Homo sapiens: one gene and its partner. The protein of the gene in region 1 interacts with the protein of each later gene in a pairwise test. Each region holds a gene or a part of one and is shown in the gene's direction. Other genes may lie near its edges.

Region 1 (3,500 bases):
AGATAGATATAGAGTTGCCTTTTGGGCCATTTAGTCCTTAAGAAGTTCCCTTCTTGGAGTGATATAGACACCAGAATTGTTCCAGATTTTCAGAGTAAGGCACGTATGGGTCCTCTCACAAAGGTACACAATTCTGAGACCCTTTTAGGAGGAATGCAGATCTGGTTCAACTCTGTTGTTCAATCCAAGGTCATATATCTGTTACTGCCTTGTGTAGGAACTACTGGGGCTATGGAAATGAAGTAAAGATAAGTGATAAGTTGTTACTTTCTTTCTATTGAGGTTCCACATCTGTGGATTCAACCAACCATGGACCAACAATACTCAGAAAAAAATTCCAAAAAGTTACAGAGAGTAAAACTTGAATTTTCCATGTACCGAGTACTGCATTGAATCCATGTGAATGAATTGATGTTTAGACATTGTATTACTTATTATAAGTTATCTAGAGATGACTTAAAGTGTATAGGAGGATGTGCATACGTTATATGCAAACTATACTATTTTATATAAAGGACTTGAAGATTTTCAGATTTTGGTATCTGCAAGTGGCCAAACCATATGCCATCATCCCTCAGTGTCCAAGAGTATCACCAAACTCAGCAGTGTATTTTATCCGTTTCCTAAAGCATTGCCAAATAACTTAATTATCATAGATTCTATAAACTCTATGATTAGGCTGGAGTTTTGTTGTATTAATTTATTTATTTATTGAGATGGAGTATCGCTCTGTTGCCCAGGCTGGAGTGCACTGGCATGATCTTGGCCTGCTGCAACCTCTGCCTCCCAGGTTCAAGAGATTCTCATGTCTCAGCCTCCAGAGTAGCTGGTGGTACCCGCTACCACACCCGGCTTTTTTTTTTTTTTTTTTTGTATTTGTAGTGGAGACAGGGTTTCGCCATGTTGGCTGGGTTGGTCTCAAACTCCTGACCTTGGGTCATCTGCTCGTCTTGGCCTCCCAAAGTGCTGGGATTATAGGTGTGAGTCACTGCACTTGACCTAGGCTGGAGTTTTAAATGAAACATGGATTTTTAGAAGATCATGCATATTAGAAGGAGTGATAGGAAGCTAATATTTCAGGCAGCGTCAACTCTTAGTTCTTTAGGGGCTGCTCATGGTGCATGGTGGTTGGTCTAAGATCCTATTTTTTGTTTTTTCTACCCTTTGCTACCACCCACAAAAGGCAGACAAGGGGTAAATTTTCTTGAGAAATTCCAAAAGCTTGGAGGAAGAGGATGAAATAAATGACAAAAACAAAGGTTAGAATTACATGTGGATTCCATTTCCAGAGAGTAGTTCTGGTATGAGTAAGTCAGAGGAAGGTGTATGAAATGGAACCATAGTTAATGTAGAAAGATGGTGGAAGTCATTCCCTAGGTTTATCTATTATGTCTAAAATAGTGGCTCAAAATAATCTTAGTTAGATCAAAGGTTGAATTGATCTCCTGTATGGGGAAAGTACTTAAGACATGAAAGGATAAACATGATTGAGAAGGAAAAGAGAAACTCAGATAATTTTCTAGGAAACGATACTTGTTTTTCAATCATGGTGGTCTCTATGTAAGGGAAAGGAAAGGAAGAGTAATATCACTACTAGGTTGAGTTACTCTTTCGTGTGGATGTGACAGTAGACAGATCATATCAAAGTGCTGTATTTAGGGTTTTTTTGCACCATATTTTTGAAGGTAAACTGGAGTAGGCTGTATGAAAAGTGATCAGAAGAGAGGCTTGGAATCATATCATGAGGAGCTGTTAAGGGAACCTGGTGGTGCCAAGTGTGGTCAAGACGACAGGATAACCTCAAATGCTTGAAGATTAGGTTTGCTCAGGATGGATTACAATGAAAACCTAGGTATGGCAGGAAAAAAAGAAAGATTTCACAGCCAAAACCATGAAAAATGTTTCAAACAAGAGAGCTAACTGAGAAAAGTGGCTTTCCTTGGAAGATAATACATGTTCCTCCACTGGAGATGTACAAAGGCTAGATAATCACTTGAGGTTTCTTGTGAGGATATTCAAGCTTTATAATCCCTTTCCAGCAGGAGAGTCTAAGACTCTGTGATTATTGGCAATGACTGGGTGGCCTAGAAAAATAAAAAAGGTTATTTTACAAAATTCTGATCTTACCTGGGGTTTTGGTTACTTTTCCTGTCCTTCTTCTAAGCACAAAAGTGAATTCCTGGGGCATTCTGTTTGGGGGATCCGCTTACGACTTTTCTTTTTTTCTGACCCCAGCTCTCCAGAATTTTTCATCAGACAGAAGGCAGTGACTTCCTAGTTTGTAAACCACGACATTCTAGTTAGTGTGTGAAGAACATAGAGAGGATAGTGGGAGATAAATGTAAGTGCCTCGGAGTTCCTGATTAGATCGCCTGTAAACATCATAATGAGTCCTTGAGAACACATTCATTATGAGTGTTTTTGTGTGGGCTTGAATGGAAAGCACACACATTTATGAACACCCATGAGGTTCCTGAGTTACAGTTTAATGTCTCATTTGGTATTCATTAGACCATGACAGCCAATATTTCTTCAATTTAGAGTGATTCCACCTTGTGTAAAAAAAATAAAAAAAACAAAAAACAGATAATGCTAAGAATCAGTGAACTGCTCTGAGCATTTTTTTCTCTTCTCAGAAGGATTTTTTTTCTTGTTGCTATTAGCTTTGTTAGGATGATGCAATTGAATTACAGAAATTACATTCAGTAACTCTTGTTTGCAGCTAAATTATGCAGAGACAAGACTTAGTCAATTGGAAAACTGTCATTGTGAGAAGACTTGTCAAGTGAGTGGACTGCTCTATCGAGATCAAGACTCTTGGGTAGATGGTGACCATTGCAGGAACTGCACTTGCAAAGTAAGCCTCTTTGTAAATAAATACAGTAAAAACAGTTTTAAGGGGAGAGGTTTGATAATTAGAGTGTAACCTGGTTCTTTAATAAATAATATTAACTCTGAGAATTGTTAGGTTTTTACCTAGCACCCACTAGCCATACGAGCAATTGTGAAGCAATGCTGGAAGAGTGTCATGTCTTATATGAATACTTGGAAATTAAAATCTGCTTTCCCTTGCCAACACACCCTAATTTGATTTAATAGGCAATGTTTGGAGTTTGAAGGTTGGGATATAGTGGAAAGAAGGGACTCCTTTGATTTTCAAACAACCTAATGGTTATCCTTATTCACAACCAGAATAACTTTAAAAGGGGAGTTTAATTATTTTCTACATGTTTTTATTGTCTTTTGCAAAGTGTATCCATCACCTGTTTCAAATAATTGCAAGGCATTTCCTCCCTGACTCACTGTCAGTGTGAGGATATCCATTATTTGTATATCCCTTCATCTGTTTCAGTGAATTACAACATCCCCCTCCAAAAATTAGTATGGAAACCCTGTCCAGTTGAAATTACTTGATAAATATCTGAAGAATGCCATTGTTTGTCTAGGAAAATACAAAACAGATTGTTAGAGCCTCAGAAATGATTGACAGAGTCTGCAAA
Region 2 (3,500 bases), on another chromosome or scaffold:
GAAAGACACACAATCCACCCCTAACTCCTTTCCTCGTCTGCCACTCCTTATCCCCAGGATTACTTGTTCTTTTATGACTGCTTTTCTCCTTCAAAGCTTCTCATTGCTAGTTTTTATCAGATTTCAGGTGATTAAAAAAGAAGGGCATACTATGATTGCTGTGTTCCTCAGGTACATTCCTGTGTTTCTCTGACCTTTTGGATCCCCTAACCTAACTGACTTGGTGAACAGGTTCTGTGATGGGGAAGGGAGATGGACACCCTTCTCTAGGAGGGCTGGCAAAAATACACCAATCACAAATAGTCATCTTTGTTGTGCTTTTTGTTTAAGATTGTTTTCCTCTTTTGCTATGGTGGGTGTTGTTCTTCGGATTTTTTTTTTTTTTTGGTTGATAGTATTTTAAAACCAGTCTACATAACAACTAAAAAATGTGGGAAAATAGCTGTAGTTGAAAAAAAAAAAAAAAAAAAAAAGGCCGGGCATGGTGGCTCACGCCTGTAATCCCAACACTTTAGGAGGCTGAGGCAGGTGGATCATCTGAGGTCAGGAGTTCGAGACCAGCCTGGTCAACATGGTGAAACTCCGTCTCTACTAAAAATACAAAAATTAGCCAGGTGTGGTGGTGTGCGCTTGTAATCCCAGCTACTTGGGAGGCTGAGGCAGGAGAATCGCTTGAACCTGGGAGGCGGAGGTGGCAGTGAGCTGAGATCATGCCATAGCACCTCCAGCCTGGGGAACAAGAGCAAAGATCCATCTCAAAAAAAAAAAAAAGGAAAAAAAAAGAAAACTAGTTGGCCGGGCACAGTGGCTCACGCCTGTAATCCCAGCACTTGGGAAGGCCGAGGCAGGCAGATCACCTGAGGTCAGTAGTTCGAGACCACCCTGACTAACATGGTGAAACCCTGTCTCTACTAAAAATACAAAAAATTAGCCGGGTGTGGTGGTGCATGCCTGTAATCCCAGCTATTCAGGAGGCTGAGGCAGGAGAATCGCTTGAACCTGGGAGGCAGAGGTTGCAGTGAGTGAGATCACGCCACTGCACTCCAGCCTGGGCAACAAGAGTGAAACTCTGTCTCAAAAAAAAAAAAAAAAAAAAAAAAAAAGACAAGTCTACTGGGCAGAGCATCAGTTGAAAGTTCAGAAGATAGGCTCTGTCCCAGCAATTTTGTGATTCTAAGTAAATTGTGAAGTTTCCTGGAAAGGTTAGACTCACCCCTTACTGCCTGCATCAGTATGGTTCCGTGGAGGTGAGTGAGAATTACTGTGTTTCTTGGGAAAAAATACACTACAGAATATGGACATGCCGTTTACCTAGCAGGCCTCCAACTCAGAATAGAATACATGGGTAAGCTTAGTCTGTTCCCACTGGAGCTAGCAGCACTTAATTCAGGAAGAAAGACCTACTGATGTTAGTGGGTTTAAAGGTCAATCACAAGAAGAGCGCACACACATCAGTGGAAAGGAAGAAAACAGTAAGAAAATACCATTTTTGCTCTCAAAAGATCTTACAATCAGTAATTTGGAGGGACTTGACACTTAGCAAGAAATACAAACAAGTGCAAATGAATACAGCTGGCTATAGGGATTTGGATAAAGATAGATACCTGCTGATAGACAGATACGGATGGATTGGCTGTGAGAAACTGTGTAACCCAGTCTACACCAAGTAGGAGGATAGGCTTAAAAACTGGTACATCTGTGTTGTTTGCTCACGGATATTTTGAGTCTTTAATCATTCATGTGAAAACCCTGACTTTTCCTCTAGCCTTAGGGAGCTCAAGTACTAGAGAATGGGTCCTTTATGGGGCTCTCAAAAATGAAGTTCTACAATTTGGGGCTACCTAGGTTTAGTCTTGGGATTGGTAGGGCTGTGTTCCTTTGTATTATAGAATGGGACATTCTTCTTCTACCTACTCTGATGTGAGAAAAGATTCTTTTCATATCTCTGTGACTGATCTAGGCCTTCTGAGAATTCTCCCCAGCAACTTCTGAGGAGAATACAGCAAAGTATAGAAGAAAGAGCATGGGCTTTGAAGTCACCGACATGGGTTTGATTCTGGCTCTGTCACTGGTTCCTCACTGTGTGAGGTTGGGCTAGTCACAATCACAATCTTTGAGCCTCAGTTCCCTCACCTATATAATGAGGGTAATAATGCTTACCATTCAGGGTTGGTTGTAAATATTAAATGAAATCATGTATGTGAAGGGCTTGATATAAAGAAGGTATTCAATAAATTCATACTTCAATGTCATTTCTTTTTTCTTTTTTTTTTTTTGAGACAGAGTCTTACTCTGTCACCCAGGCTGGAGTGCAGTGGCATGATCTCGGCTCACTGCAACCTCTGCCTCCCAGGTTCAAGTGATTTGCTTGCCTCAGCCTCCTGAGTAGCTGGGATTACAGGCACGTGCCACCACGCCTGGCTGGGTTTCACCATGTTGGCTAGGCTGGTCTTGAACTCCTGACCTTGTGGTCCATCCACCTAGGCCTCCCAAAGTGCTGGAATTATAGACATGAGCCACCATGCCCCGCTCCATTTCTTTATGTTCCTTTGTAAGGCTCCGTGGAATGTGTGTGTTCACAAATATCCTTTAGGGATCATGAAGGGTAAACTGTGTGATCTCCTGGATTGGGGCTTGTAGGTACATCCGAATTTTCTGCCCTCTACAGAGATGAAAGAGATTATACTTCGAGCAGAATCTGCCTCCCTTTTAGATAGCTAAGGTAGCCCATGGGGCATGCCAGCAATGTCTTGTGGTATCTGTACCTCTTGGCCCAAAGGCTTAGGGTTGGGCCGCTTGCTCAGTTCTCTGACAAGCAGAATAGTATTCCTTTGTGACTCTGTTCTCCAAGTTGGAGACTCTGATGGTTTCCTTCTAACAGGTTTCATTGAAAACAGATCCTGCAAAAGTTCCAGGTGCCCACACTGGAAACTTGGAGATCCTGCTTCCCAGACCACAGCTGTGGGGAACTTGGGGTGGAGCAGAGAAGTTTCTGTATTCAGCTGCCCAGGCAGAGGAGAATGGGGTCTCCACAGCCTGAAGAATGAAGACACGACAGAATAAAGACTCGGTGAGTTAAAATGAGAGACATGAAAGATGAGGGGCGGGGCAGGCAAGCTAGGAGGAAGGGTCTAGAGAAGAAGAACAAATAATGTGCACCATAAAGTTAGGTGCAATGTAAAGAACAGTGTTACCTACCTCCTTCCTCCTCCTGTAGATGTCAATGAGGAGTGGACGGAAGAAAGAGGCCCCTGGGCCCCGGGAAGAACTGAGATCGAGGGGCCGGGCCTCCCCTGGAGGGGTCAGCACGTCCAGCAGTGATGGCAAAGCTGAGAAGTCCAGGCAGACAGCCAAGGTATTCTGTCCTCAGGTCCTCCCACAGGATGCCCAAGGCACTGGGGCTGAGGGTGTGTGTGTGTTGTGGGGGAACTTCCTGTTTGGCAGAGGGTAACGGTGGAGCTCGGGAGGTAGGGAAAAGACAGGAATTTTCTCTTTCTCTC

Evidence for each region.
Region 2: the proteins of NELL1 (region 1) and ATN1 interact in a two-hybrid assay, tested with the Homo sapiens proteins (one large-scale study listed by BioGRID and IntAct).

The regions. Positions count from the first base shown.
Region 1 is NC_000011.10:20,924,586-20,928,085, forward strand, and holds part of NELL1 (protein kinase C-binding protein NELL1 isoform 1 precursor), read left to right. Parts: intron 1-2,127; exon of another isoform or gene 2,128-2,211; intron 2,212-2,722; coding exon 2,723-2,857; intron 2,858-3,500. UniProt on the Homo sapiens protein: Plays a role in the control of cell growth and differentiation. Promotes osteoblast cell differentiation and terminal mineralization.
Region 2 is NC_000012.12:6,930,959-6,934,458, forward strand, and holds part of ATN1 (atrophin-1), read left to right. Parts: intron 1-2,881; 5' UTR 2,882-3,043; coding exon 3,044-3,070; intron 3,071-3,217; coding exon 3,218-3,355; intron 3,356-3,500. UniProt on the Homo sapiens protein: Transcriptional corepressor. Recruits NR2E1 to repress transcription. Promotes vascular smooth cell (VSMC) migration and orientation. Corepressor of MTG8 transcriptional repression.